7 linked regions of the Homo sapiens genome follow. The protein of the gene in region 1 purifies or fractionates together with the protein of each later gene. This does not show direct contact. Each region holds a gene or a part of one and is shown in the gene's direction. Other genes may lie near its edges.

Evidence for each region.
Region 2: the proteins of CDC26 (region 1) and ANAPC16 purify together in Homo sapiens (co-immunoprecipitation; 5 studies listed by BioGRID and IntAct, with this or other methods). This does not show direct contact.
Region 3: the proteins of CDC26 (region 1) and NEK2 purify together in Homo sapiens (affinity purification with mass spectrometry; 3 studies listed by BioGRID and IntAct, with this or other methods). This does not show direct contact.
Region 4: the proteins of CDC26 (region 1) and CARM1 purify together in Homo sapiens (affinity purification with mass spectrometry; one large-scale study listed by BioGRID and IntAct). This does not show direct contact.
Region 5: the proteins of CDC26 (region 1) and CDC27 purify together in Homo sapiens (affinity purification with mass spectrometry; 12 studies listed by BioGRID and IntAct, with this or other methods). This does not show direct contact.
Region 6: the proteins of CDC26 (region 1) and EIF4G1 purify together in Homo sapiens (affinity purification with mass spectrometry; one large-scale study listed by BioGRID and IntAct). This does not show direct contact.
Region 7: the proteins of CDC26 (region 1) and DNAJB8 purify together in Homo sapiens (co-immunoprecipitation; one large-scale study listed by IntAct). This does not show direct contact.

Annotation. Positions count from the first base shown.
Region 1 is NC_000009.12:113,266,005-113,269,828, reverse strand, and holds the end of CDC26 (anaphase-promoting complex subunit CDC26), read left to right. Parts: intron 1-2,389; coding exon 2,390-2,566; 3' UTR 2,567-2,837; downstream 2,838-3,824. UniProt on the Homo sapiens protein: Component of the anaphase promoting complex/cyclosome (APC/C), a cell cycle-regulated E3 ubiquitin ligase that controls progression through mitosis and the G1 phase of the cell cycle.
Region 2 is NC_000010.11:72,214,668-72,219,594, forward strand, and holds the start of ANAPC16 (anaphase-promoting complex subunit 16), read left to right. Parts: upstream 1-1,344; 5' UTR 1,345-1,471; exon of another isoform or gene 1,472-1,609; intron 1,610-2,153; coding exon of another isoform or gene 2,154-2,186; exon of another isoform or gene 2,187-2,467; intron 2,468-4,927. UniProt on the Homo sapiens protein: Component of the anaphase promoting complex/cyclosome (APC/C), a cell cycle-regulated E3 ubiquitin ligase that controls progression through mitosis and the G1 phase of the cell cycle.
Region 3 is NC_000001.11:211,661,835-211,665,967, reverse strand, and holds the end of NEK2 (serine/threonine-protein kinase Nek2), read left to right. Parts: intron 1-2,315; coding exon 2,316-2,542; 3' UTR 2,543-3,196; downstream 3,197-4,133. UniProt on the Homo sapiens protein: Protein kinase which is involved in the control of centrosome separation and bipolar spindle formation in mitotic cells and chromatin condensation in meiotic cells.
Region 4 is NC_000019.10:10,877,617-10,881,899, forward strand, and holds part of CARM1 (histone-arginine methyltransferase CARM1), read left to right. Parts: intron 1-4,283. UniProt on the Homo sapiens protein: Methylates (mono- and asymmetric dimethylation) the guanidino nitrogens of arginyl residues in several proteins involved in DNA packaging, transcription regulation, pre-mRNA splicing, and mRNA stability.
Region 5 is NC_000017.11:47,154,796-47,159,078, reverse strand, and holds part of CDC27 (cell division cycle protein 27 homolog), read left to right. Parts: intron 1-775; coding exon 776-873; intron 874-1,694; coding exon 1,695-1,849; intron 1,850-1,954; coding exon 1,955-2,166; intron 2,167-4,214; exon of another isoform or gene 4,215-4,283. UniProt on the Homo sapiens protein: Component of the anaphase promoting complex/cyclosome (APC/C), a cell cycle-regulated E3 ubiquitin ligase that controls progression through mitosis and the G1 phase of the cell cycle.
Region 6 is NC_000003.12:184,324,035-184,328,317, forward strand, and holds part of EIF4G1 (eukaryotic translation initiation factor 4 gamma 1), read left to right. Parts: intron 1-166; coding exon 167-313; intron 314-843; coding exon 844-1,080; intron 1,081-1,234; coding exon 1,235-1,339; intron 1,340-1,445; coding exon 1,446-1,605; intron 1,606-1,661; exon of another isoform or gene 1,662-1,737; intron 1,738-1,816; coding exon 1,817-1,917; intron 1,918-2,492; coding exon 2,493-2,595; intron 2,596-2,846; coding exon 2,847-2,949; intron 2,950-3,181; coding exon 3,182-3,414; intron 3,415-3,551; coding exon 3,552-3,670; intron 3,671-3,795; coding exon 3,796-3,968; intron 3,969-4,283.
Region 7 is NC_000003.12:128,463,519-128,468,489, reverse strand, and holds the start of DNAJB8 (dnaJ homolog subfamily B member 8), read left to right. Parts: upstream 1-1,599; 5' UTR 1,600-1,876; intron 1,877-3,053; 5' UTR 3,054-3,214; intron 3,215-4,376; exon of another isoform or gene 4,377-4,379; 5' UTR 4,380-4,971. UniProt on the Homo sapiens protein: Efficient suppressor of aggregation and toxicity of disease-associated polyglutamine proteins.

The DNA of each region.
Region 1 (3,824 bases):
TAAGACTAATAACTTAGATTTCTTTCCCCCTGCTTCATCCCAAGAGACTTTAGTGTTCTCTAAGTATCGTAATTTTTGCTTTCTAAAAACTCATATATTATTAAGCATGAGCTTTAAAGTATGGCTTAAACTTCAGTTGTAACGAATCTCATAAAATGCTAGCATGCTGAACTTTGACTCTACAGTCAGCTCACTATTGAGTTAGTCTTTCCACTAAAGACAGTTATCTAGTGGGTTTTACCTTGTTTTAGAGTAACTTAGGAAGCAGGGACAGTCATGCCCTAAAGTGAAACCAGTAGAAAACTGGCCTGTTTCATTTATTACCAACATGAGTTTGATTATACTACTGTGACTCTAGCTTCTGAAACAGCAGTTGCTCAAAGTGGGAAGCCTTTTAAGTGATTTCATTCCATTTGGATATTCTCAGAATGATAGAGTTGTTTGCCTTTTCGAACTTGTTTTCACAAAGGTATTTAGGTAGAACTTTCTAACATCACTTACTAGTAATCAGGAAGGTCATTTGCCACATAAAAGGCAATACCTTATTTTATTCCCTGTAATACTTTGTGAGTGTTGGCATTTATTTTTTTTTTTTATTTTTATTGTTGAGACAGGGTCTTGCTCTGTCGCCCTGGCTGGAGTACAGTGGCATGATCACAGCTCACTGCAGCCTTGACCTGCCAGGCTCAGGTGATCCTACCACATCAGGCCCCCTGAATAACTGGGAATACAGGCATGCGCCACCATGCCTGGCTAATTTTTAAATTTTTTTGTGGGCCGGGTGCGGTGGCTCATGCCTGTAAACCCCAGCACCTTGAGAGGCCGAGGCAGGCGGATCACGAGGTCAAGAGATTGAGACCATCCTAGCTAACATGTTGAAACCCTGTCTCTACTAAAAGTGCAAAAATTAGCCAGGTGTGCTGGCATGCGCCTGTAGTCCCAACTACTTGAGAGGCTGAGGCAGGAGAATCGCTTGAACCCAGGAGGCGGAGGTTGCAGTGAGCCAAGATGGCGCCACTACACTCCAGCCTGGCAACAGACAGAGACTCAGTCTAAAGAAAAAAAAAAAATTGTGGAGACAGATGGAGTGTCACTATGTTGCCCAGGCTAGTGTCACACTCCTGGGCTCAAGCAATCCTCCGCCTTGGCCTCCCAAAGCACTGGGATTTACAGGCATGAGCCACTGCGGTCAGCCTGATGCTTGGCATTTAAATGCCCACAGTTCAGCAGCAAGTGGTGAAGAATGGTGGTAATTCCAGTGATTTGAGTAGCTGAGCCATTCTTCTATTAAGTAACTTTGGATAAAACATCATTTCACTCTCTTAGAGAAAGTTATCATCTGTTATCCTTACAGTCAGGTAGTGGCTGTTATGGGATAAGTGTCTGTTTTTGAAAATGATCAAACTAAGACATACTTTCTGGATTCTGCAGTCACATGTGACTTAGGAGCCAAACCTTTTATCTGAAAACAAAATGAAGCCACAAAACCCAGACCTTTTGATAAGATAGCATAAAACCTTCTTGAGTTACTTTTAATCTCATGGGATCAGTCAGGCTATAGATTTTTGGTGGTTATTTCTTTACCCAATTTATTTTTCTATTCTCTAGAATAATAAATTTGTTGAAATGCCCTTTGCTCTCACTTGTCTGCTCTTACAGCTTTCCAATTGTAGCTTCCTGTTGTACCACCACACCCCAACTCCTTACCTCTTGTCTCTTTGGCAGTGTAGACTTCTCTCTGTCATAGGTCATAGCCCTGATCACCCTATAATCGTCTGTTTGCCTGTTTCCCTATTAGACTGTGACATCCTGGAGGGTAGGGGTTACATCTTTTGTTTTTTTTAAGACAGAGTCTCGCTCTGTCGCCAGGCTGGAGTGCAGTGGCACCATCTCAGCTCTCTGCAACCTCCGACTTCCTGGTTCAAGCGATTCTCCTGCCTCAGCCTCCCAAGTAGCTGGGATTACAGGCATGCGCCACCATGCCCAGCTAATTTTTGTATTTTTAGTAGAGATGGAGTTTCACCATGTTGGCTAGGGTGGTCTCGATCTCCTGACCTCGTGATCCGCTCGCCTCAGCCTCCCAAAGGGCTGGGATTACAGATGTGAGCCACCGTGCCCCGCCAAATTTTTGTATTTTTAGTAGAGATAGGGTTTCACCATGTTTGCCAGGCTAGTCTCGAACTCCTGACCTCAAGTGATCAGGGGTTACAACTTTTAACACCATATCCTCATTGTGCCCCTAAGTACTCCAAACCTAGGATTTCAGTTTATTGTTCTTTACACCCTAACTCTATCATTTAGCCCATGCCTAGTACATGGTAGGTGTTCTAAATAAACATTTGCTAATTGAAAGAATGTTGCCTTAATCCTAAAACTTTTATACTTTCAGACCCGTAAGAAACAGAAGGAAGATGTGGAAGTTGTAGGAGGCAGTGATGGAGAAGGAGCCATTGGGCTTAGCAGTGATCCCAAGAGCCGGGAACAAATGATCAATGATCGGATTGGTTATAAACCCCAACCCAAGCCCAATAATCGTTCATCTCAATTTGGAAGTCTTGAATTTTAGAGATGGATTATCTTGCATGCCAGAGCGCTGGAATGGAATAAAATGATGGCAGAAGTACAAACCAGATTTAGAGAATTGAGTGCTTGCAGTCAAGCAGAATGTACCTCCTGCAGAGACAAATCTTCTGCATGAGATTACTGATGCTTCACTTGCACTCTAAGCTGGAATCCAAACTCTGGTTTGTCTCTTGAAAATTTGACTCTATAAAACTGATCTGATTTTCTGTTTTTAAAAATAAATATATTTTTGGAAAAATGTGAGGCATCCTTAATGAAGTATAACAGTACTGTTAATTCCCAGACTTTAAAAGATAATTGCTACAAGATTAACATCATTCTTTCCATCTTTATTAAAAGACCCTAAGCACAGGACACTCTAGTTGATCCCTGCCACTTTCACTTAACCCATCTATTCAATAAGTATTTATTGAGTGTCTACCATGTGCCACTCAACAAAGATCCCTGCCCTTGTAGAAATTAAATTCTAGTGGATATTGTGTAAATCTGAAGAAATTGTAGGTACCCGATCTCTTTACAGAATGGCTTTGTAACTAGTTTGGGTATAATGTTGGGAGGACAGGCAATGGAGGAAAGAGGAATGCTTCTAACAGTTTTGCCATTATTCCAACTTTCCTTCCTTTCTCAACTTGCCTAAGTGTTTTTCCCAGAAAGAACCAGAGAGGCAGCTCGGAGGATAATTTTGAATCATGCCCTATTGTTCTGGGCATTAAAAAAAAATTTTTTTTAAAAATTTTTATTGTTTTATGTAGAGACAGGCATCTGTGTTGCCCAAGCTGGGCTTGAGCTCCTGACATTAAGCAGTCCTCTCAAAGTGCTGGGATTACTGTGCCTGGCCTGTTTTCACTAATTCAACACAGGGAATCACCAGCTGTGATCATAAGAGCCTCTTGAATCATCAGTTCTACGGAGACTCTTAGCAGGACTTTAGCCTTTTTGGGGTAGTTTAAGTCTGAGTAATACGAGGGGGAGAGGGACAGGTGTGGTGGCTCATGCCTGTAATCCCAGCACTTCGGGAGGCTGAGGCAGGAGGATTGCTTGAGTCCAGGAGTTAGACCAGCCTGGGCAACACAGGGAAACCCTGACTCTATAAAATTAAAAAAAAAAAAAAAAGAAGGGCCGGGCATGGTGGCTCATGCCTGTAATCCCAGCACTTTGGGAGGCTGAGGTGGGCAGATAACCTGAGGTCCAGAGTTTGAGACCAGCCTGACCAACATGGAGAAACCCTGTCTCTACTAAAA
Region 2 (4,927 bases), on another chromosome or scaffold:
CGCCCAGCAAACTCTTTCTATCTAGCAAGATAATTAAGACAATGAGGGATATTTAATACACTTAACCATCCAGAAAAAAAAAAGCCCCTAAGTACTTTTAGAGGTGCTAGAAATTCATACCAAACAATCAGTTCCAGTTGTCTGTTAAAGCACAGTTAAAATAACAACTTAACCAATATGGTTCTCAGACCAACATACTGCTGAAGGGGGGAATCCAATTTCCACAGGCCACTGCCCAACAAAATGCACATCGCTCACTGCGAAGCCAAGCTTCTGGTCACATCACTTAATGAATCAATAATTTAGGAAACAAAGGTTCCTTACAGGCTAGCTGAGGTTAAATTCAACCAATATTCCTACCACGTACAGCTTAGATAGTCTTGAAGCCCAAAATACTTAAAAGTTCCAAAGAAAACAAGTTGATCCTTACTAAATACACTAATGTTCAAGCCAACGTGGGCGCGGTGGCTCACGTCTGTAATCCCAGCACTTTAGGAGGCCGAGGCGGATCATCTGAGGCCAGGAGTTCGAGACCAGCCAGGCCAACATGATGAAACCCCGTCTCTACTGAAAATACAGAAAGTAGCCGGGTGTGGTGGCGGGCGCCTGTAGTCCCAACTACTGGGAAAGCTGAGGCACGAGAATGGCTTAAGCCTGAGAGGCGGAGGTTGCAGTGAGCTGAGATCGCGCCACTGCACTCCAGCCTGGGCGACAGAGCGAGACTTCGTCTCAAAAAAATAAATAAAATAATAATTGATGAGTTGTGCGCTTACAGAACCAAGAAGAGGTTTCGTGAGAAATAACAACACAGAAGGTAAACCGACATGGATGGAGGAAAAGGGCACATCATTAGCAATACTCGATGACATCACAACCCAGTGGCCTATTCCCCGAGGCCTCTAAAGTTCTCAACGAAAAAAGACTTTCAAAGGAAAAGCTTAAAAAAAAAATGTTCCCCACAAAAACAGACTAAGATGAAAGTCGGGCCCTCAGACCACGAGCTCCGGAAGAACAGGCAGTTGTCGCGGAGACAGCAAATGCAGCATCTACCTGTCCTACATGGCCCTGCGCTACGAGACTGCTCGGAAGGAAAGAGAGGAATAACCAACTTAACCCTGCTTCGAGGTGGTTTGGAGAGGAAGAGGAAAGCTGTGTCTTTCTGCAATATCGTGAGGGAAGCCGAGGCCCTGAATCATCAAAGAGAAGGAGAAGAGGACTAGGCGGCTGCAGGTAAACCAAGGTAGGGCGAGGAGGAGGACCCGGAATTCCTCTACGCGAGCGCGTTCTCTGCTCCCCTCCTCGCGTCTCCGCCCCGGCCACGCCCACCACGGCACGGGCGCGCGCACGCCGCCTTCGCCGCTGGCTCCGTCTGTTGGGGGGCGAACACGCCGCGGTCCTCGTCGTGGTGAGCGCAGCCACTCAGGCTGGTCCTGGGGGTGGGGCTGTAGGGGAAAGTGCTAAAGCCGCTGAGGTAAGAGGCCGAGGGGTCGAGGGCCCTCGGGAGCTTGGTGAAAAGGGAGTTAACCCCCAGGATCCTACCTGCAGGGACTAGAAAAATGGAGAAGGTAGGAGGAGAAACAGGAGACTGCTGCAGCAGACGTGCGATAGGAAATTTCCCCAGGCCGGGTTTGACCGAGTGCGCATGCGGGCCGAGGGCTGGCGCCTGCGCAGTGGGACAGCGCCGATGGCGTAGTTTCCTGGGGACCCAGCTGGGTGGGAAAAGTGGCTAGGAGTTAGCTTGGGAGCCGCTGGTGTTCTGAGCGCTCCCCTCTCTGGCCACTTTTTCTCCACGCCCACCCCCGCCCCGTTCCCGCCCCCCCCCCCCCCCGTTACAGCTGCGGCATCTATTTGGTTTGGGTTGTAATCCAGCTGTTTTGAAGTGGAACGATTTGTTGATGATGGAATTTAATGATTACTTGTAATAATTTGCCTTTGTACTAGGGTAGGAACTTTTAAGGAATTACTCTTTTTAAGAAAATAGGCATATATCTGTTAGAAAGGAAAGGAATTTATATTCATAAATATATGAATGCGAGGTCATCCCTGCCGTACATGAAGTAAATGTTTAAGCATCTTAGCTCGGACACAGCAATCTGTGTCCACAAAGCATCGTTACTCTCCTGTGAGGATCTCCACTGTCAGCCCCAACTTACCTGACAGGGCCAAGTCCCAGGATACTTCATCATCAGTATTTGTTTGACAAAATTTTACTGGGCACCTCCGGTGGGCCTGGCAAACTGGTTGAAGATAGAGTTGTGCGAATAGATCTGCACAATGAGAAAGAAAAAAATCCATAATGATCCAATACTCATGACACAGCGCTTCTCTATCTCCTGCATGACCTTTGCTGAGCTGCTCGCCCTGCGTTCTGTCGTTTGTTCATCATTCATTCATCCGAAATGCTCGGGACTGGAAGCACAGTGGAAACACTGCCCCAGGTTCTGTGCTCGGCATTGAGGGTAGAAAGACTTTTCGAAGGTGGCAGGGTGTTTCTTAAGATCATTGAACCTTAAAATGAAAGTGTAGGCCGGGCGCGGTGGCTCACGTCTGTAATCCTAGCACTTTGGGAGGCCGAGGCGGGCGGATCACGAGGTCAGGAGATCGAGACCATCCTGGCTAACACGGTGAAACCCCGTCTCTCCTAAAAAATACAAAAAATTAGCCGGGTGTGGTGGCGGGCGCCTGTAGTCCCAGCTACTCGGGAGGCTGAGGCGGGAGAATGGCGTGAACCCAGGAGGCAGAGCTTGCAGTGAGCCGAGATCGCGCCACTGCACTTCAGCCTGGGTGACAGCGAGAATCCGTCTCAAAAAAAAAAAAAAAAGGAAAGTGTAAAGTGCTTAATAGAAGGCACTGGCCCTCCTCCTGAACAGATTCTTTCTCCTGTGGGAGCTTGCTGACTCTGTTAGATGGAGAGAATTAATACTTTTCCCATGAGGTTTTTTCATAGTAAGTATGAAAACCTGGGATCTGCATAGGAAAAAAGACTCAGTAGTAACTCTCCGTTAATGACTTTGAATAGCCAAGATTTATGAAGTGTTTACTAAGCCTGTAACTGTTCCAAGTGTTTTACGTGTATTAACTAATCTTTGTCACACCTGTGTGAGGTAGGTGCCGTTATTACAGGTTGAGTATCCTTAATCCAGAAATCCAAAATCCTCCAAAATTTAAAACTTTTTGAGCACTGACAGGATGGTCAAAGGAAATGCTAATTGGAGCATTTTGAATTTTAGATTTTCGGATTTGAGAGGCTTAATCATTAAGTATAATGCAAATATCCCAAAACCTGAAAAAAAAATCCGAAATCCAGAATACTTCCAAGTCCCAAGCATTTCGGATGAAGGGTACTCAACCTGTTTCCCATTTTGCAGATAAGACAACTAAGGAACAAAAAGATCCCGGAGGGGGAGGCGGAGGTTGCAGTGAGCCAAGATCGTGCCATTGCACTCTAGCCTGGGCAACAAGAGTGAAACTCTGTCTCAAAAAAAAAAAAAAAAAAAAATATATATATATATATATATATATATATATATATATATATATATATATATATATGCCGGAGGTTGCAATTTTTTACATTTTTGGCATCAGACCTTGGCGATGACCTTGAGCAGTAGGGTATAAATAACTCCCACATGCTTAGCGTTCCAGTAATGGAACACTAGGCATAAATGGGTTAAATGATGTGTCCACAGTCATGCAGCAAGTAAGTAGCAAAACCAGAACTCAGAGAGGCTTCATAATCTTACCCATTATGCTGCTTTACGTTGCACATGACAAATAACATACCAACAAGCCATTGCTTCAAAATGTCACAGCAGATAAGCTAAAATTGTCTCTACACCTCAGTTTTATTTTTTCATATATAAAATGGGGAAGTTGGGTTAGATGACCTTTAAGGAATCTGTGGTTTCTGTGAAATATTTAATTCACTCAGCAAACATTTACTGAAGTGAACAACTACTTCCTTACTATAGGCCAGGTGTTATGTTTGGTTCTGGTGATCAGTTAATTCCTGCCCTGAGAGCAGTTACCATCTAGGGTTTATTAGTTTTGCTTTACTCTCATTTACCACTTGCTGGTAGCATTCAAAATTTAACCTAAATCTTTAGAGCTAGAAATTACTTAGGTATATCCTTCCACCTCAGCAGAAAACTGCTTATTTAAAGTTAGCTTTATGCTAATTCTGTGCTCCAGTTTTCAACCCTGGCTGTTTTGTGTGTGGAACGATAGTAGTTCTGAGAGTTTGGAAGAAAACAGGATGAAAGGGAGTTCGTTTGATTATATTCAGCTTAGAAGTCACACTGTGGCTACCTTTTGAAGCTGTCCTCACTCTGGCAGTTGCTTGGGTGCTCTGCTCAGCACCTGACTTCAAAATATAAAGTATAAAGCATTTGCAACTGAATAGAGCATTTATCAGGGTGTAGGTAAAATAGATTAGAGTTTTAAATCTTAGGTGAGATATATAAACAGTTCACCGTGGGTTCTACTCTGAACTGATGGGAAATAAAGACTGAGCTGCTCTCCAAAAGATGGCTAAGTTGTCTGTATACTTTATTTGAATCCCACCAGGAATTCACTTAGAGATTTGGACCTGGTCCCTTACTGCTTAAGTTCAAAAACAATTCAAAAACTTGTCAGGCTGTATTTTGACCCAGTGTAGTCCGGAAGATTGGATATTAATCTAACTCCCAAAGTTGTTGCCTCTGTGGATATGAGTACAATTTGGAAAGTTATCAGAGCTCAGAGAAAAGAGGAAGAGTGATCTAATAACAAGATTGAAAATGTCAGCTGAGCAGAGTGGCTCAGGCCTGTAATCCCAGCATTTTGGGAGGCTGAGGTGGGAGGATCACTTGAGCCCAGGAATTGGAGACCCGCCTGAGCAACATAGTGAGACTTCCTCTCTACAAAAAATAAACAAAATTAGTGG
Region 3 (4,133 bases), on another chromosome or scaffold:
AGTTTTTATAACTCCCTTATTCCATGTAGGACAGCATATATGAAAGCTATTATTCCCATCTTTAATAAATTGAGATGTAGTGTGATCAATTTAGTGAGCATTGGCAGCATTTTGTAAATGGAACAGACAAAAAACCCTACTTAAGTTAGATTGATGATCACAATAACTTTGTAGTGAATAAGTGATGGAAAGAAATGAAACTACTGATAGAAGTAAATGAAACAAGGATTATATGAAACTTTGGCTTCATCTCTGTTAAAATACCTTCTTTTTTCCCAATATTGCAGTCTACCATTTCAATATTATAAAAATATTTATTCTGGCTTTTCATAGATTCCACACTGTCATCCATAAAGACAAAATAGACTTAAATCATGATTAGGGTGATAAAATGAGGAGAAAATTTTACCTGGATGAATTTCATGCATCAAACCCATTGCAGAGAATTACTTAAGACCCTGTTGGGGATGGCTGTTCGGTTAAAGAGTTTATTTACATTTGCCCTGATAGTCTTTGAGCAAAAGATGAAAATAGCTAAGTAAGGATGATGTGTTTTACTTTATAGGATACACAGATAAGTATGGGAATCTACTTATATGTGAATCATGGCAAATATTTAAAATGAGCCATAGGAATCAAGTATCCACTGGGGCAAGCAGACATTTTAGGGTATTGAGTGCTGAAAGTAGTGAACACATCAGAGCTATAAGATAAGCATCATAGCAGTGGGGAGCGGGTACCATTCTGAACTCAGGACAGTTGGAAATATTCTCTCCCCATCCTTGGGCTATAAAATCCACACGTGAGGAAGCCATCACAAGTATATTGAAATCATCACAGCAAGCAGCAGTGTCTTTTTTAAAAGCTGTTCTTTTCGTATTTGATGAAATATTCATTCTTCTATTTAATGGAAGAATTTTAAAAATGTTTTTAAAACACTTTCTTTCTTATAAAACTGTCCCATTAAGAGCCAAGTGTGGTGACGCACCTATAGTCCCAGCTACTCTGGGGCTCAGGCAGGAAGATCACTTAAGCCGAGGCGTCCAAGGCTGTAGTGCACTACAGCTGCACCTGTGACTAGCCACTGCACTCCAGCCTGGAAAACATGGCAAGACCCCATCTCAGACAAAAACAAAAACAAAATAAAACTATCCCATTAGTAAGACAATGTTGACTTACAAATGTAAAGGTATTTGTGGTAATAAGAAGGTGGATAGAGTTGAAACAGTGGAGATAAGGTCTAAAAGCAATCCAGTTTGCTTTGAAGCAGAAGCGACGTATGAAGCGGGAAGTCACAGGACCCTTGGAAGGCAGTGCATCTGTGTGCCAGCCTTTCCTATTTCTTCTGCCTGGAGCACTCTTCATCCAGACAGCCCTGTGGCTTCTTACTTCAGAAATGCTGTATGAGGCTTTGTATCATTACACCCAGCACCCAGCACCCAGCATGTCCCTGTTTCCAGAGCTATTTTTCCTAATAGCACGTATTACCATCAAATATTCCCCACCAGTACTTGTTTGTTTGTGTTTGGTTTATCTCCTCCTACTAGAATAGGGCCTTTGTTTGGTTCACAGTGGCCCATCCTATGAGCTCAGTAAATATTCGAACATATTTCCTTTAACACAAAAAATAAAAGGATTCTAGAATCTGTAAGCCTCCAGCCCCCAGTAATTCTGTCAGCAGTTAATAGTGTTGCCACTTTAAGTAAATATGATTATTATTTATTTTTTCCATGTAAAGAATAGTTTACAGTTTTTACTACTCTTACTTGATTTACCTTTTCCACACTGAATTTGTTTAGATTTTTTGGAAACAGATTTCTCGTCCATTAAGATGCTTTGAACTAAGTGTTCTTGAACATTTAACCAAAACTGTAGGTGTTCTCTATTTAAAAAAAAAAAAAAAAACAAAGACAGAAAAAAACCTCTGCTTCTACACTTTTCTGTAGGTAAGGTGTTCTGCATAGAATGGCACTTATTTTCAAGGACAGAGATAAATAACATTGATTTCCAAAAGTTTTATGTTGTCCATAATACTCAGTGTGTTTAAGAGTAAAATTGATTGTTGGTTGTTAAGAGAATAAAACTTATGTTCCTTGAATTTTGGCACATTCCAATATTATTTTTTCAATGCTGTGGATTAAAAGGCTGATTTCTGCAAGTCCTACACCCCTAACCTCCTATCCCAGAGAAAATAAAACAGGCACCTAGATTTCAAATGTGAGCCATAAGAGCAAATACTTTTTGATAAGTATAAGTATGAAGGAGTTGAACTCTGTTCAAGTAACTCAGAGCCCTTTTTCTTTTTCCTTCTAAAGAACTTCTTAATCTTCCATCCTCAGTAATTAAGAAGAAAGTTCATTTCAGTGGGGAAAGTAAAGAGAACATCATGAGGAGTGAGAATTCTGAGAGTCAGCTCACATCTAAGTCCAAGTGCAAGGACCTGAAGAAAAGGCTTCACGCTGCCCAGCTGCGGGCTCAAGCCCTGTCAGATATTGAGAAAAATTACCAACTGAAAAGCAGACAGATCCTGGGCATGCGCTAGCCAGGTAGAGAGACACAGAGCTGTGTACAGGATGTAATATTACCAACCTTTAAAGACTGATATTCAAATGCTGTAGTGTTGAATACTTGGTTCCATGAGCCATGCCTTTCTGTATAGTACACATGATATTTCGGAATTGGTTTTACTGTTCTTCAGCAACTATTGTACAAAATGTTCACATTTAATTTTTCTTTCTTCTTTTAAGAACATATTATAAAAAGAATACTTTCTTGGTTGGGCTTTTAATCCTGTGTGTGATTACTAGTAGGAACATGAGATGTGACATTCTAAATCTTGGGAGAAAAAATAATGTTAGGAAAAAAATATTTATGCAGGAAGAGTAGCACTCACTGAATAGTTTTAAATGACTGAGTGGTATGCTTACAATTGTCATGTCTAGATTTAAATTTTAAGTCTGAGATTTTAAATGTTTTTGAGCTTAGAAAACCCAGTTAGATGCAATTTGGTCATTAATACCATGACATCTTGCTTATAAATATTCCATTGCTCTGTAGTTCAAATCTGTTAGCTTTGTGAAAATTCATCACTGTGATGTTTGTATTCTTTTTTTTTTTCTGTTTAACAGAATATGAGCTGTCTGTCATTTACCTACTTCTTTCCCACTAAATAAAAGAATTCTTCAGTTTCCCTGTAGTTATGTGTCTTGCATTTGTTGGTCTCTTAGTTGATGGGAGTTGTGTTTATGATTTGTAGGTCTTCATTGTAGGGTACAGAAGGAAACATGGATCTGATGCTCAAGGGAGTGGCATTCCAGTCCTAAACTGTATGGCGCTTTACCTCCCATCTCATTAATCCATGTATGTAAGCCAGTGGTCCTTAACAGGGTGATTTTGCTCCTCAAGAGACGTTTGGCAATGTCTGGGGGCATTTTTGATTGTCATGATTTGGGGTAGGGTGCTACTGGCTGCTAGTGGGTACAGGCCAGGGACACTGTAAACATTTTACAATGCACAGGACAGCTGCTGACAACAAAATGTCCATGGGTTTGGATCATAATCCTGAATGATACAATCTCAAATGCGAAAATCCTGAAAGACCAAAATCCCTAATGTCTTAAATCCCAAAAGATCAGAATCCCTAATGTGTGAACTTCCAAAATCACAATCCTGAAAGATTAAAATCCCAGATGTTAAAATCCTGAAAGCCGAATTTGAGGTTAGGGATTAGTGCCGTTTCAGCTGTATACAGGATAATTGCATCATGTTAGGCAGAACTATTACCTTGTTATTGTCTTCATTTGGAAATTAAGTATGGTTTAAGAGATGTGGATGGATATCGAGTTGATAAGGGGTGAACTTGTTGATTTATGTGTCAACTTGACTGGATTAAGGAATCCCTAGAAATCTGGTAAAGCATTATTTTAGATGTGTCTGTGAGGGTGTTTCCAGAGGAGGTTAATATGTGAGTCTCAGTAGACTAGGTGGGGAATATCTTTCCTCAATGTTTAGTGTTTTGAAGATCATAAAAGCGACTTTTCAGGTGAAAAGTACAAGAAATCTCTCCTGCCAAATTATTCAGTTATGTACAAATTCTGCTCCTTCATGAATAGTGCCACGCTTGCCTTAAAAAA
Region 4 (4,283 bases), on another chromosome or scaffold:
TCACCATCTTGGCCAGGCTGGCCTCGAACTCCTGACCTCAAATAATCTGCCTGCCTCAGCCTCCCAAAATGCTGGGATTACAGGTGCGAGCCACCGCACCCAGCCTGTGTTTTATTATTTATTTATTTTGAGATGGAATCTCGCTCTGTTGCCCAGGCTGGAATGCAGTGGCGCAATCTCGGCTCACTGCAACCTCTGCCTCCCAGGTTCAAGCGATTCTCCTGTCTCAGCCTCCCGAGTAGCTGGGATTACAGGCACATGCCGCCATGCCCAGCTAATTTTTTGTATTTTAGTAGCTCACTGCAGCCTCTAACTCCTGGGCTCAAGTGATCCTCTGGCCTCATCCTCCCAAGTAGCTGGGACTACAAGCACATGTCACCACCCTTGGCTAATTTAAGCAATTTTTTTAGAGACAGAGTCTTGCTGTGTTTCCCAGGCTGGCCCCAAACCCCTGGCCTCAAACCATCCTCCTCCTGCCTGAGCCTCAGAAGTAGCTGGGATTATAGTCACGAACCGCTGGGCCCGGTGTGGCCTATTTTTGTACAGACAAAGCTAAGAAAGGCTTTTACAGTTTTTGAGAGATTGATTAGGGAAAAAAACTAAAACCCAATCCACAAACAACAATAATCAGTTGAGACCACAGTGTCCTGCAAAACCTGAAATATTTACTCACTGGCCCGAGGCAGGGGAAGCTTGTAGACCCCTGGGATAAATGAATGAGGCAGGCAGGAGTTGGGGTCTGTGGGGAGTTTGGCCCCAGCCAAAAGAGAAACCAAAAAATCCTCAGGCCGAATAGAGCATACTTCTGAATTGTGTGAGCCCCTTGTGCCAATTGTGGCGCTTACTGTATGTTACCACTTACTCTGAAAAGAGTTCTGTGAGGTCAGAGATACCAACCCCAATTTACTGGTGGAAAAACAGAAATGAAAGAACTTGACTGGCCAAAGTGATGTGGTTGGCAGGCAGCAGAGATGGCTTTGGCATTCTGGGTGACTGGATGCCCACCTTAAATGCATATATAAGTGGTTCAGTGACATTTATCTGTTCATCACAAAGACCCAAAGTAGCAGAGGCTTAATTAAACACGATGGCATTTTATTTTTTGTGCTCTAATGCTAAAGTGTGAAGATTGTCAGGTGCCAAAGTCTCCTGGGCTCTTGGAAGTTCCCAGATCCAGGTCCTCCCCCCGGCTTTTTTTTTTTTTTTGAGATGGTGTCTCGCTCTGTTGCCCAGGGGCTGCAGTGCAGTGGTGTGATCTCAGCTCACTGCATCCTCTGCCTCCCGGGTTCAAGCGATTCTCCTGCCTCAGCCTCCCAAGTATCTGGGACTACAGGCGTGTGCCACCACGGCTGGCTAATTTTTGTATTTTTAGTAGAGACGGGGTATCGCCACGTTGGCCAGGCTGTTCTCAAACTCCTGACCTCAGGTGATCCACCCGCCTCGGCCTCCCAAAGTGCTGGGATTACAGGCCACTGCCCCAGGCTGATCCTCCACCATTCTTAAGGTGAGGTCTTGTCCTCAGGTTTCAGCATGACTGCTGGAGTCCCGCCATTACACCCTGGCTTCCAGACAGCAGGACAGAGGAAGGGACAAAGGAGAAAGGGTGCAAAGGTCACATCCAGGTGTTTGTTAAGAAAGGTTCCCGGTAGCTGATGCAAGGTGCTTCAGCTTTCATTTTGTTGGCTAGAATGTAGTCACATGATCACTGCCAGCTGCAAGGGATGCTGGGAAATGTAGTTTTCAATCTGAGCGGCCATGTGCTCAGCTGAATTTAGGGTTCCAGTTTCCATGGACAAAGAGAGAACATACAGGGAGTCACCTTGGCCACAGTGGGTAGGATCTGGACCTGGCCAGAATGTTGGGAAGGACGTTTCTGGGTTATGGAGAGGTGCTCCAGTGGGCCAGGGCTGGAGACAGCCACCTGGCTTGGAGCACAGGGTCCCCTGTGAGGAGTGGAGGGGCTAAAAGTGGAAACAGGGCTGGGTTGGAATCGAGGATTTTTTTGGTTTTTTTGGAGATGAATTCTCGCCCTGTCACCCAGGCTGGAGCACAGTGGCTCAATGTCATCTCACTGCAACCTCTAGCCTCCCAGGTTCAAGTCATTCTCCTGCATCAGACTCCCAAGTAGCTAGGATTATAAGTGCGTGCAACCACACCCAGATAATTTTTGTATTTTTAGTAGATACGGGGGTCTCACCCTTTTGGCCAGGCTGGTCTTGAACTCCTGACCTCAAGTGATCCATCTGCCTTGGCCTCCCAAAGTCCTAGGATTACCGGCATGAGTCACCGCACCCAGCCTCAGGTGAAATCTTAATGGAAGGTGTCCAGTGCTGTGAGCAGCTCCTGGTCACCAAGCACTGGCCCTCTGTGTAGGGGGTCTGGATGAGATGGGTGGGCAAGGCCTTTCAACAGAAGCTGGAGTGTGGTGTGAACTTGCTAATGACTTTGAGATGCCAAGCCTCACACACCTCAGACCAGGTTGGATTTAGCAGGTGGAGAGGCTCAGGAAGACCTCTGTGGCAGGTGTGTCTCCTTTCTGCGGAAACCTGCTGCTTCTAAGGTCTGCTGGAGAACCTGGGAGGTGGTGAGTTTGCAAAGACATCCAGGGAAGCAGCCACTTAAGCGAGGGCAGGATGGAGGGGCCCACCTGGGCCACACCTGGCTGCTTGAGGTGGCGAGTTGAGGCTGGGAGGGGTTTCCATCAGTTCCATCAGCTCAGAGCTAGGATTTTTTTTTCTTCTTTTTTTGAGACAGGGTCTTGCTGTGTCACCCAGGCTGGAGTGCAGTGACACGATCATAGCTCATTGCAGCCTTGAACACCCAGGCTCAAGGGATTCTCCCTCCCTCAGCCTCTCTACAGGCTGGGACCACAGGCGCACATCACCATGCCTGGCTAATTTTTTTTTTTTTTTTTTTTTGTAGAGACAGGGTCTCACTATGTTGCTCAGGCGGATGTGGAACTCCTGGGCTCAAGCGATTCTCCTACCTTGGCCCCCAAAGTGCTGGGATTACAGGTGTGAGTCATGGCAGCCACGGCTCCAGAGCTCGGGTTCTTAATCTGGTCTGTGGATGGCCCCTGGGGGCGGTCCCATGAGCCCCTCACAATTGGACACAGTTTTGCAAAGGGGTAAAAGGACAAGAATCGGTAGCTGTGACTGTGGATGAGCCTCTGAGCTTCACTTTCCCTCCCTGAAAGGGGGTGACAGTGGCACCTCCCTGGAGGTTTTCGTGGAGGGGAGGAAACACATGTAAAATACTTCACCCCAGTTGGGCACAGAGGCTCATGCCTGTAATCCCAGGTTTTGGGAGGCCGAGGCAGCAGGGCGGTTTGAGTCCAGGAATTTACAACCAGCCCGGGAAACACAGTGAAACTGTATCTCTTAAAAAATAATTTAAAAAAATTAGCCGGCATGGTGGCACATGCCTCTAGTCCCAGCTATTCCAGAGGCTGAGGCGGGAGGATTGCTTGAGCCCAGAAGCTTGAGGCTACATTGAGCCATAATCGTACCACTGCACTCCATCCCGGGAAACAGGGCAAGACCTTGTCTCTAAAAAAAAATGCTTCTTGCTTGATGACTTGTGATATATGAAAAGGAAGAAAGAAAAGAAAAGCTTTGCCCTGTGTGCCTGGCCCGAAGTAAGTGCTCCATAAATTGGCCGTGGTGTAGCTGTGGATTCTCTGCACATTTTTCTGTGCAGAACCTCCCCTGATTTCGGTCAGCTTCTCAGAAGGATCTGTGACTGAAAAAGGGTACCAGTTCCTGGAGGACAGCACCTGATTGGGGAGTGGAGTCTGCCCTGGCTGGTAAGGGATTGGGGGCTCTCTGCGCAGGGCCAGGACATCTCTCCAGGGACAGGCGAGAAGCTTTGAAAGGGCAGGAAGGAGAGGGCAGCAAGGTCAGATGCCGTGAGAGGTCAGAGTGAGAGCCAAGGGGCGGTCACTGGATTTCTGAGCAGGAGGTCACAGGTGACCTCAGAGAGCAGTCCCCTGGAGGGCTGGGGTGGGGGAGGGGCCAGCCAGATGGCAGGTCTTGGGGGAGGTGACAGTGGAGCTGCAGAGAGAGCAGGGGGGACGGTGACCTTTCCCAGCCCACTGAGACCCACTCTTTCATTCATTCAGCCAGAAACAGGCAGCGAAAGTGGACTCGCCGTCTCCATAGTGCGGTAGCTCCCATCCAGCCAGCTTGAAATGGTCAGCAGAAATTCACCAAGCGTCTGCTGTGCACCAGTTACTGTTTTAGGAGCCCAGGGATGTGGTGACACCCGAGATAAACACAAGGTCC
Region 5 (4,283 bases), on another chromosome or scaffold:
CACTGGGAATGTTGTATTAAAAATTAAGGCCAAGCGTGGTGGATCACGCCTGTAATTCCAGCATTTTGGGAGGCTGTGGTGGGCAGATCACTTGAGCTCATGAGTTCGAGACCTGCCTGGGCAATATGGCAAAACCCCATCTCGACGAAAATACAAAAAGGCCAGGTGCGGTGGCTCACACCTGTAATCCCAGCATTTTGGAAGGCCAAGACAGGTAAATCACCAGAGCTCATGAGTTCAAGACCCGCCTGGGCATCAATGGTGAAGCCTGGTCTCTACAAAATATGCAAAAATTAGCCGGATATGGTGGTGCGCACCTATAGTCTCAGCTGTTCAGGAGGCTGAGGTAGGAGGATGGCTTTAGCGTAGGAAGTAGGGGTTGCAGTGAGCCAAGATCATGCCACTGCACTTCAGCCTGTATGATAGAGCCAGACCTTGTCCAAAAAAAAAAAAAAAAATTAAGAATAATACTGAAGGATTTGGATGTTTTTCACATCTCCCTCAATAACTCTAGTATCTGACAGGAAGTTTAAAGTAATAGTAATATTCAAGAAGGCAACGATAGTTTGTTTTGTAAGCATTTCTTTTGATTCATGTTCTGTGCGCTTTCACTTGATTTGGAGATTAGCAGATGGGAGAAATTGGTAACTTAGAGAAGCATCACAAAGAGTGCTCTCTGAACTTCTGTAACTTTTACCTAATTTTTTATACTAAAAGTTTATGATACAGGTTTTGGGGTTTGTAGCTTATTTAATCTACTTGTTTCTCTCCACAGCAAGACAGATCGGCTTGCCAAAGGATCAGAATGTTACCAAAAGAGCCTTAGTTTAAATCCTTTCCTCTGGTCTCCCTTTGAATCATTATGTGAAATAGGTAGGTGGGTGGGGTTGAGAGGTGGGTGGGTTCCCATCTCCTCTTCTTTTTTTCCTGCTACTTAATTTTTGGAGAGCAATACAGATCATCTACCCCCAAGAAAAATATTTTTCAAAGTTAAAATTGAGAATAAAAAATAAGTTAGAATCTTCGGTATGTTTCAAGAATCATATAACTGAAAATTACACAAAGATTAAATCCAGTAGATTCTTCTGTTGAACCAATCTATTTTCAAGTATCTGGTGTCCTCTAGAATGGGTTATATTGTGTGTTTAACACTAGCAAAATTGCTTTCTGAATAAGAAAATTAATAAAATTTCTAATGCAATTAATAAATGCCTGAAACTTACAAGACCTGAACAGTACAGGGAGAGAATTTCTCAGTATATTTGGCCTAGGATACATAAAGGACCATTTTTCAGCATTGTTGCATCTATGTATATATAGAAGGGCTTCAACCTTTACTGTAAAATATGATGGGTTTTAACTCTTCAACCTCATCTCCTACTTTGAGAAAAATGAGATCTAGTTATTTTCAGCTTTAAAACAAACACAGAAATCTGCATTTTTCTGCGATTTGTTATGTTTAAAATTAGTGTTCTTGTAGTTTATTTTCATTTACAGCTTTATCTTACTGGTAAACTTTTATGATATATTGATAGATGGGTTTTTTGGGGGTAAATTTGATTAGCAGAAGTGGACAGGAGATTTTTAAAGTTTGGATAAGGCCTATTTCCTGTTTCCACTGATTTATGCATACTTGAAAAACATGTATTCCTCACTTCCTCAGAGACAAACTTTTTTTTTTTTTGTCTTCACAGGTGAAAAGCCAGATCCTGACCAAACATTTAAATTCACATCTTTACAGAACTTTAGCAACTGTCTGCCCAACTCTTGCACAACACAAGTACCTAATCATAGTTTATCTCACAGACAGCCTGAGACAGTTCTTACGGAAACACCCCAGGACACAATTGTAAGTGTCTTATATTCTAGTGTTCAAAATATTATGAAAACTACAAAGAATGATCTGAACTAAATAATATATTGTGAATGACTTGGTAGAAATTTTCTGTTTCAGGAATTAAACAGATTGAATTTAGAATCTTCCAATTCAAAGTACTCCTTGAATACAGATTCCTCAGTGTCTTATATTGATTCAGCTGTAATTTCACCTGATACTGTCCCACTGGGAACAGGAACTTCCATATTATCTAAACAGGTTCAAAATAAACCAAAAACTGGTCGAAGTTTATTAGGAGGACCAGCAGCTCTTAGTCCATTAACCCCAAGGTAAGTCAAACAAGATACTTTCAAATGTGCTATAATACCAAATGATCTTATGATAACTCATATTGTTAGTAATGCAGATTATTACAACAGCAACTTCTAAATCACTGTGGAAACAGGGGCATTCTGTTTTCAGAAAATGAAGTAAAAACTGGCAAATAGTGATGTTGCCAGGTGCGGTGGCTCATGCCTGTAATCCCAGCACCTTGGGAGGCCAAGGCAGGCAGATCACCTGAGGTCAGGAGTTCAAGAACAGCCTGGCCAACATGGTGAAACCCTGTCTCTACTAAAAATACAAAAATTAGCTGGGCATGGTGGCGGGCGCCTGTAATCCCAGCTACTCAGGAGGCTGAGACAGGAGAATTGCTTGAACCCGGGAGGCGGAGGTTGTAGTGAGCCGAGATGGAGCCACTACACTCCATCCTGGGCGACAGACCAAGACTCCAACTCAAAAAAAATTGATATTGAATATTGGACTGGCCAGGCGCAGTGGCTCACGCCTGTAATCCCAGCACTTTGGGAGACCAAGGTGGGCAGATCACGAGGTCAGGAGATCGAGACCATCCTGGCCAACATGGCGAAACCCCGTCTCTACTAAAAATACAAAAAACTAGCCGGGTGTGGTGGCACGCGCCTGTAGATCCAGCTACTCGGGAGGCTGAGGCAAGAGAATCACTTGAACCCGGGAGACAGAGGTTGCAGTGAGCCGAGATGGTGTCACTGCACTCCAGCCTGGGAGACAGGGCAAGACTCCATCTCAAAAAAAAAATTGGAGGAAAATTTAAAACTCTGAAATATTCCTTAATTAGGTAGTAAACACATTAAAAAATACTGTCTTTATGGCTGTGCATTAATGGATAGCGGTGAGCCTCATGAAATGTTATAATCAGGGCACCACTGGTTACTGTTAAAGTGCCTTTTTCCAAAACATGGAGGAAATTTGACACCTACCTTTTTTTGTTTGAGACAGGATCTCACTCTGTCACCCAGGTTAGAGTGCAGTGGCACAATCATAGCTCACTGCAGCCTCAAATTCTTGGGCTCAAGCGATCCTCCCACCTCAGACTCCTGAGTAGCTGGGACTGCAGGCACATGCCACCACACCTGGCTAATTTTTTAAGTGTTTTTGTAGAGATGGGGTCTTGCTGTGTTGCCCAAGCTGATCTGGAACTCCTGGCCTCTAGTGATCCTCCTGCTGTGGCCTCCCAAAGTGCTAGGATTACCGTGAGCCACTGAACCTAGCTGTCACACCTATTAATATAAAATATTTTATCAAAATTATTAGAAGTATATGTATGTATAAATACAGGAACTCAGCCCAGAGGATACATATCCAAAAGTATCAAAATGAAAAATTATGTGCTAGAATGGGTTGGGCATGGGGGCTCATGCCTGTAATCCCAGCACTTTGGGAGGCTGAGGTGGGCAGATCACTTGAGACCAGGAGCTCAAGACCAGTCTGGCCAACATGGTGAAACCCTATCTCTACTAAAATTACAAAAATTAGCCCGGCATGGTGACACATACGTGTAATCCCAGGTACTTTGGGGGTTGAGGCACAAGAATCATTTGAACCCAGCAGGTGGAGGTTGCAGTGAGCTGAGATCATGCCACTGCACTCCAGCCTGGGCAACAGAGCGAGACTCTGTCTCAAAAAAATATATACATATATGCTAGAAGAAATTCTATGAATCAGGTCCTGAGGCCGGGGAACTACTAAAATAGCATGACCATGAGATTACAACTCTGGAGAGTTATAGTTATCTAATGGTCTCTAGAGACATTTTCTCTGTAGTTGTGTCTAAATCCCATAAATTCCAAGAATTTGAAGTAATCTCATCATTTGGATCTTAGATTTATAAAGCTACTCTTCTTTATTTCTAATAAATCTCCTGAGATCAGTAATTGTTGCTCAGTTTAGTTCCTTGTTTGATAGCTTTTTAAAATTTTAGTTATGGTGGGTGGAATAGTCTACATTCACAGCTTATTTTTAATCTGCCCCTCAGATCCTCACTGTCCCTAAGACTGATTTGCCATTCTCTTCCTTTTAGACCTTCTAATTTAAGTATACTGCTGCTTTATATATGCCTTGATGACTTTTTGACACCTTGATTTCAACC
Region 6 (4,283 bases), on another chromosome or scaffold:
ACTCCTTGAGTCCAGCTTCTTGGTTCCCCTCCAACTTGTGCCTCTTCCAGCTGGAAGGAGGCAGAGCTGGGGCCAGAGATCTTCCTGGGTCAGGTAGTTAAAGGCTCTTGGAGGGCCTTCCCTGCCCAGGACTAGTCTTGAGTGTGACATTCTCTCTGACCTACAGCTGAAAGTGCCCACTACGGAAAAGCCAACAGTGACTGTGAACTTCCGAAAGCTGTTGTTGAATCGATGTCAGAAGGAGTTTGAGAAAGACAAAGATGATGATGAGGTTTTTGAGAAGAAGCAAAAAGAGATGGATGAAGCTGCTACGGTGAGAGAAAACCCACTATCGATTCCACTCACCACTTACCTCCTTCCCTTACCCAGATGCTACTCAGCTGTAGAATTTGGAATGGAGGTAGTGGTGTCTTGGGGATTTCTCTGGCTCAGGACGTTTTTTTTCCTTTTTGAGACAGTCTTGCTCTGTCACCCAGGCTGGAGTGCAGTGGTGTGATCTTGGCTAGCCTCCACCTCCTGAGTTCAAGCGATTCTCCTGCCTCAGCCTCCCAAGTAGCTGGGATTACAGGCATGTGCCACCATACCTGGCTAATTTTTTTGTATTTTTAATAGAGACGGGGTTTTACCATGTTGGCCAAGCTGGTCTCAAACTCCTCCTGACCTCAAGTGATCCGCCTGCCTCAGCCTCCCAAATTGATGGGATTACAGGCATGAGCCACTATGCCCAGCCAGCCGGCCTCAGGACTGAGTGCTTATTGCTAGGTTTGGATATCCAGGTAGAAAAGGGTTTTAGCCGAGTGGCTGGTTATCTTTTTGACACAATCCCTGTCCTGTGAATGGCAGGCAGAGGAACGAGGACGCCTGAAGGAAGAGCTGGAAGAGGCTCGGGACATAGCCCGGCGGCGCTCTTTAGGGAATATCAAGTTTATTGGAGAGTTGTTCAAACTGAAGATGTTAACAGAGGCAATAATGCATGACTGTGTGGTCAAACTGCTTAAGAACCATGATGAAGAGTCCCTTGAGTGCCTTTGTCGTCTGCTCACCACCATTGGCAAAGACCTGGACTTTGAAAAAGCCAAGGTAGAGGTCCTTGCATCTGGAGGGGGATGGGCTGAAGCATATGTGGGGCTCACTGAGCCCACAATGATGGGGCGGAAGGCCTGAGGAGGGGTGGGGCCTGCAGTTATAGGTGGGACATGAGAAGTTCCTGGTCTGATGCCTTTCTCCTTCCTAGCCCCGAATGGATCAGTATTTCAACCAGATGGAAAAAATCATTAAAGAAAAGAAGACGTCATCCCGCATCCGCTTTATGCTGCAGGACGTGCTGGATCTGCGAGGGGTGTGTGTCCCCCTCCTCCCCACTGCCAGCCTGCTGCCTCCAGTTTCTGACACTGCCTTGTCTTGCCTTCCCTGACATCATCGTGACTGGCCCTCTGTCTCCACAGAGCAATTGGGTGCCACGCCGAGGGGATCAGGGTCCCAAGACCATTGACCAGATCCATAAGGAGGCTGAGATGGAAGAACATCGAGAGCACATCAAAGTGCAGCAGCTCATGGCCAAGGGCAGTGACAAGCGTCGGGGCGGTCCTCCAGGCCCTCCCATCAGTGAGTTCCAAGCTGGGATTGAGAAGGGAGCAGTGAAGGGACCGGGAGGTTATACTTTCCTCTGATGACTTCCTGTTAGTGCCACGTGTCTGGGCCACTGAGACACCATGATGGAACTGAGGATCTGAGGAAGGGAGGCTGGGGGTGGCCCAAGGGGAAGGGGCTGCTAGGATTTATTCATTATTCCAGTATGCCCCTCTTTTTGTGTCAGGCCGTGGACTTCCCCTTGTGGATGATGGTGGCTGGAACACAGTTCCCATCAGCAAAGGTAGCCGCCCCATTGACACCTCACGACTCACCAAGATCACCAAGGTAGGGGTGTGTGTGGGAGTGGGTGATTCAGCTCAGGTTTAGATCTTAGTCCCTTCACTTTTCTAAAGTTGAGAAGGTGACAGCTGAATGTTTCCTCTTAGACTAACTGGTTGGATTGCTGGAGACAGGACTGCCAGCTGTAGAGGGAGGGTGGTACTCCCATTAGTCTGGACCAGTGTTTGGCAAACACACACACACACACACACACACACACACACGTGCCAGATCCAGCCCATTCATACATCCCAGGACCCAGTAGTGGTTTTTACATTTTAAAGTTGCGAAAAATCAAAAAGTGAATGGTAATTTATGCTGTGGAAATTAAATAAAATGTAAATGTCAGTGTCCATGAAGTTTTATTGGAACACAGTCACAGCATGCCTTTATCATCTACAGCTGGTTTCATGCTACTGTGGCAGAATTGAGTAGTTGCAATAGAGACTGGCCCTTTATTAAAAAAGATTTTCTGACCCCTGGACTGGGCCATTCACTACCTGTTTGGTTGCATATGGTGGTGCTGGCCAAGGGACTCAGCCGGGTTGGACCTATGATTCTACTCCCCTTTTCTTCTTCAGCCTGGCTCCATCGATTCTAACAACCAGCTCTTTGCACCTGGAGGGCGACTGAGCTGGGGCAAGGGCAGCAGCGGAGGCTCAGGAGCCAAGCCCTCAGACGCAGGTATGGAGGCAGTGTCAGGAGCTGGGTGGTTACCCGTCAGAGCTCCCTTGAGGACAGAGCCTTTTCTGTTAGGGAGGCCTTCAGTACAAGGTGGTTAGGCAATGCGGGCAATAGAGGAGGTTTGTGTTGTGGTTCCAGGGATTGAACTGCTTTACTTTTGGGACTGGGACCAAGTGTCCTAAACTGGCAAGTAGGGGATAAAATGCAGGAAAGGAGAAAAAGATTTTAATACGGATTTTCTGCATCCCCAGCATCAGAAGCTGCTCGCCCAGCTACTAGTACTTTGAATCGCTTCTCAGCCCTTCAACAAGCGGTACCCACAGAAAGCACAGATAATAGACGTGTGGTGCAGAGGTGAGGTTTCCTGGACATCTTTGTTATTCACACTGGGGGTACCGTGATTGGGTTCTGGTTGTTGCCATAGGTTGGAAATTTCTTCATACCTGTCCTGGTTGGAGCCCTTGGGTTAGATTGGGGCATACTCATTATGCTAAGAACAAGGCCCAACAGTTGCTCAGCATGTTGTGTAATTACATGAGTGCCTGGGCAGTGCAAGTGAGTGAAAATTTGTCTGTCTGTCTTCCAGGAGTAGCTTGAGCCGAGAACGAGGCGAGAAAGCTGGAGACCGAGGAGACCGCCTAGAGCGGAGTGAACGGGGAGGGGACCGTGGGGACCGGCTTGATCGTGCGCGGACACCTGCTACCAAGCGGAGCTTCAGCAAGGAAGTGGAGGAGCGGAGTAGAGAACGGCCCTCCCAGCCTGAGGGGCTGCGCAAGGCAGCTAGCCTCACGGAGGATCGGGACCGTGGGCGGGATGCCGGTGAGAGTCTGGGAGAGGAATGGAGGGAAAGGCATTGGCTGCCTTGGGACTAGCTGGTCCCCAGCTTTTTGAGAGCTCCAAATCTTGTTTGCTGGGAAGACTGAAAAGTCCCTCTAATCTGTGTTCTCTTCCCACAGTGAAGCGAGAAGCTGCCCTACCCCCAGTGAGCCCCCTGAAGGCGGCTCTCTCTGAGGAGGAGTTAGAGAAGAAATCCAAGGCTATCATTGAGGAATATCTCCATCTCAATGACATGAAAGTAGGCAGTGGGAGCGGCGTGTGATTGAGGAGTGGGCAGGGAGGGATCATGCTGGCAGGCATAGGGGTCCGGGGTCTGGGTCAGACAGTGACTGGTCTCTTCCTGCTGTGCCCTGCACCCCTCAGGAGGCAGTCCAGTGCGTGCAGGAGCTGGCCTCACCCTCCTTGCTCTTCATCTTTGTACGGCATGGTGTCGAGTCTACGCTGGAGCGCAGTGCCATTGCTCGTGAGCATATGGGGCAGCTGCTGCACCAGCTGCTCTGTGCTGGGCATCTGTCTACTGCTCAGTACTACCAAGGGTATGACCAGCTTCTCTGGGCCTCCCACTTATACAGACCCACAATTTTCTATCTCCTTTTTGGGACCCTTGGAACCTTGCATAAGAGTGTAGGTTCCCTGGCCGGGTGTGGTGGCTTATGCCTGTAATCCCTGCACTTTGGGAGGCCAAGGTGGGTTGGATTCCTTAGAGGATCACGTGAGGTTGGGAGTTCTAGACCAGCCTGGCCAACATGGTGAAACCCTGTCTCTACTAATAATACAAAAATTAGCCAGGCGTGGTGGCACAGTAATCCCAGCTACTCGGAGGCTGAGGCAGGAGAACTGCTTGAACCCGG
Region 7 (4,971 bases), on another chromosome or scaffold:
TCCTTTTAAAAAGCCACTCCATTAATTACAGAGACAGAGAGGGGCCTCTGGCTGCTCCGAATACCAATTGGCTGCTTAATCGGCTCCATCAGCTCGCCCGGGGGAGACCTTCCTGGTACTGCTGTGTGACCTTCGGTGTGCCCTGCCCTCTCTGGGCCTCGCTTGGTCGCTGAAGGTCCTTCTCTCCCTGGCCATGGCTCGGGGTTGGCTTTAGGGTGGGCCTGAGATGAGGGACATGGGACATCTGAGGCCAGGAAGCCTAGGCTGGCTCCCCAGAGAGGGCAAATCCCCAAAAGCACCCACTGGTGAATGAGGACAGAGAGGCTTGAAGAGGGGAGGTGGCCTGACAGAATTGACGGTGGAGCGTGTGGGGCCTAAGTGTGCGCTCATGCCTGTGTGTCCCTGTCCCTCCAGCAGGCCCTATGGAGGCCTCAGAGCCCCTGATGCTCCCCACTGGCTCCCCAAAAACTGGCGTGGAAGGAGACTAGCCTGAACCCTTTGCAGAAGGGAAACTCCTCTGCACACTGCCCGGCTCCACGGTCCACAGCTCCCTTCATGGGGAGCTCCCCACAGGGGCCTCCATCTCAGGATGCCCTTGATGGTGAGGTGTGGGACCTGCTCCCAGGTGACACACCTGTTCCCGTAAGTCCTACCGAGTGGTCTGTTCTGTGTGCCCTAAGACAGCCCTGAATGGGCGGCAGTGAGGGGGTCTCCAGCCCTGTCTCCATCCTGGCTGACTCCCACAGACCCATCCCAGGAACAAGGGTTGGAGCAGGGCAGTGGCTGGAAGAAATTTCCCCTGGGAGTACAACGCAGACCAGAGCCAGGGTCTCCAACAAGGCAGGGAGGGCCAGGACGGGGAGGCGGCCACAGGATTCTTGGATGCCTCATCATACTAGGTCCTTTGTCTCTTAACATTGTTTTCACCACCCCTCCTCCACTGTCCTGATTCCATCGTCATGGAAACTTCAGGCTTCACCTTTACAATGTCAGGCCACCAACACCCTCAGCAGTGTCACCATCACCATCAACACCCCAGCGTCCCATCCCCATCTCCTCTACCACTGCCACCAGCCCCACTATCACTATCATCTCTGTCACCGTCACCACGGTGCTCTCCACCCGTGTCAGCATTGTGTCACCACCACATCACTGTCACCACACTTCCTCCACCTCCATCTCCACCCACCATCCCATCTGTGACATCACCTTATCAGCTCTGCCACCAGTATCAACCACTCACACCGCCTTTGCCATCACCACCGTCATTGCCCCCTCTACTACCACCACCATCACCACCACCGGGTCTGCCTCAGCCAGACCCACCACTGCCTCTAATTAGACTGCCACCATCATCACTGCCACCACCACTGCCCCTCCAATGCCTTCCTGATGTCACCATCTGCTTTCTCTCTGCTATCCTCACACCCAACTCCATCACAACCACCACCTTCATCTGAGCCGCCATCACCCTCACAGTACACAGCCCTCAAATGTGTACCAAGGAGGAGGACATTTACTACACGCTGCACCCTGAACAGTCTGGGACCAGCGGTCAGGGAACAAGGAATCGAGATGCTCACCTGCAGCTCCCAGGTGAGCGGCTCTCTAGAGCTTGCCTGGGAGCTGCTGAGGAGCTCACGGTATTCCAGGAAGCTCCCCATCCATGCCTCAGCCTGTGGCTCAGAAGCAGGGTCTTCGCAGAAGATTGCCCCGAGCTGTTGCAAAGCTCACCATTGTCACCTGCCTGCAACGGCCTCTCTTTTCCACTCTCCAAATCCCTTGTATTGGCAGGCTCTAGTCTGGAATTATACCGGTGATGGGATTCTGGAAAATCCCTCAGATTTCTCCAGGATGCAAGGAGACCATGGAAGAGGTTGGTGTAATGCCAAGTTAGCAACAGAAAATACAGAGCCCCACACCTCAGTGCCATCACCATCGCCATCGGCACTCACACCAGCATGTCCACCACTGTGTCCTTCTCACCCCTCGGCACCCCCCTCTACCATTGCCTCTTCCACAACCACCCTCACCACCATCCTCCATTAATAGCACAATTCCTGCCTCCTATCCCATCACCACCACGGGTGTCCCCGGCACCAGCAGCACCAACACTGCTCCCAGCAGAGCCATCGTTACCAGCCCCGCTGTCAGTCCCATCTTGAGCATCTGGCATATGTTGGAGAACTGCTCACTCCCTCTTCCCCATGGGAATCTCAGGCCTCTCTTCCTATTGCCCTGAGATTTGCAGAACCTTCCTGAAGGAAACATTCTTTGCCCCATGGATACTGGCCTTGACCATGGGATGCAGCAAGACTGCCACACATCATGGCCCAACAGAAGCTTTCAGAGGCAGCCCAAGTTCCTGCTGTCTCTGAGTGGCACTGTCATGAGAGAGGGGTGTGCAGGTCAGAGCTGATTCTCCAGCCTGGGACCCACAGTGAGAAGCTATGGGAGGTGGGGCCCTGGCAGCTGCCTGTAGGCACCAGTGAGTGAAGTGGGGGGAACTAGATGTTTGTCGTGAGCCACTGAGAGGTGGAAGCTGTCACTGTGGTATAGCCGAACAAGATACAACCTCTGCTACCTCCACCACCTTCACCTTCATCATCACCATTACTGTCACCACTGCCAACCACACCAATGGCTCACTAGGAGCCATTCCCATCACCTCCTCATCATACCTGCACCATCACTGCCAACCACAACAAAGGCTCGCTGTTACCATCTCCTCTGGCATGACCATCACCACCACCACTACCATCATCAATTACTCTCAAGCACAAGCCTTGCTGCTGTCACCACCAGCATCACCATCATCATGATCAACTCCACCATCACCCATAATTACTCTCCCCCTCACACCCACCATGACCATTACCTCCACATCAACACTGCTCCCATGGTCACCTCTACTATATAATGACACCTTATCCATCTCCATGGACACCCACCGTGCCTCTCCCCACCAGCAACACAGTCAACAGCAGTGCCTCTCCCACTGCCACCGCCATCATGGAGAACTGTGCAGGGCAAGCATCTTTCTCCCGCCCCAGGAACAAGCCTGCAAGGGACAGCAGGTGCTAACTGCTAACCGAGACATAGTGACAAAAATCCAGCCACAGAGATAAAGAATCAGGTTCATCTGTAGCTACATCCAGTGGAGAAGTTCTGCTCTTCAACTCCTCTGCTAAGCCACATGTGTCAGCAGGTGTAGGTGGGTGGATGCCCAGCATGGGGGTGCGAGTCGTGCTTTTGATAAGCTGCATGGAGGGACAGCGATGGTCACTGGAGGCTGGGTTTACAAAGTGTCTCTACAGTCTGTCTCCATTCCTCCTGGCATTTGGGATTGGTTAGAACACACACTGTCCCCTGCTAGGAGCCTGAAACCTAGCACCCATGAGCACTGAAAGAAAAGAGAGAGAGGGAGGATAATAGAAAGGGATGAAGACTAGAAAAAGGAAGAGGAGGAAGAAGGGAGGAATGAAGGAAGGAAGGAGGAAGGAAAGAAGCCAGGAGTGAAGAAGGGAGGGAAGGGAGAAGGGGGAAGGGGAGGGAGGAAGGAAAGAAAGAAGGAAGGAAGGAGAAAGGGAGGAAGGAAGGAAGGAAGGAAGGAGGAAATGAAGGAAGGAGGGGGAAGGGAGGGAGGGAGGAGGGAAGGAAGGCAGGGAACGGAAGGGAAGGGAAGGGAAAGAAGGAGGGAAGGAGGGAGGGAGGAAGGGAGGAAGGAAAGAAGGCAGGCAGGAAGGCTATCTTTAGTTAAGACTTGGTGACCCAAACATCTAGGCTCTTTATTGGTGTGGTTAGTAGGTGGTTTAGCATGGTTTTGATCTTAATTGGAGTGGGGTGAGGTGAAGGTAGGAACAGATATTAATCAGTATTGTGAATTGCTGTTTCTATATATGATCCAACACCAGAACAAGAATTAAAGGAATATAAATGCCTAAGAATATTTGGTTACCTCACTCACCTGATTCGTTTTCTAGGGCTGTTACAAATTATTACAAACTGGGTAGCTCAATACAAAAGAAATCTCTTCCCCCAGTTCTGGAGGCCAGAGGTCTGAAATCGAGGTGTTAGTGGGGCCGCACTCCCTCTGGAGGCTGCAGGGAGAACCCTCCTGGCCCCCAGCTTCCAGCTGCGTCAGTGTCCATCTCCTATACGGACATGTGTCACTGGATTTAGGGCCCACTCAGATAATCCAGGATGATCTCATCTCGACATCCTTAATTTAATTACATCCGAAAAGATCCTTTTTCCAAATAAGCTCACATTCAGAGGTTCCAAGGATTAGGATAGGAACATATCTTTTTGGGGGCCACCATTCAACCCACTACAGTCAGTAATCAATATTTATCATCAATTCCTATTTTTCTTACCAGAATTGAGTGGAACACTTCTTTGGATTTGCTGTCCGCTGCAGCCTTGGCCCTGGTTTCACATCCCCTCCCTCACTGACTCGCTGTGTGACCTTGAGCACTGTGTGTCTCTGAGCCTGGTTCATCCAAGAGTTTACCGACGGCCCTCGTGTGCCAGCCACTGTCCTAGACAGGGACAGACTTTCCCGCCTTTGTGGAGCTTACCCCGGAAGACCTGGCCAGATAATGGGCACAAAAAAAGCAGGCTCTTGTCCCCACCCCAGCCTGCCTGAACCCCACCTTGGCCTCCTCTTGCCTCAGCTGCTGCCCAGCCATCGGCCGAGTGGACATACCCAGGACGCCCTTGCCCGCCTCCCCCACCACGGCCACAGACCTTTGTCACTCACCAAGGCTGGAATCCCGTGGCTGATCCTGCCTCTGCCCTTTGGCTCCCGGGACTCAGCCCACACCACCTGGGTCACAGAGCATCCCATTCCCACACACCGTTGTGGCCACCTCACCAGCAGGGGCAGGCCCATATGCCCAGGTTTGCCTGGTGAGGAGCTGGGGGCGGGGGTATGCCCCGCCCCGGGAGCTGACGTCATAAAAGGAGCTC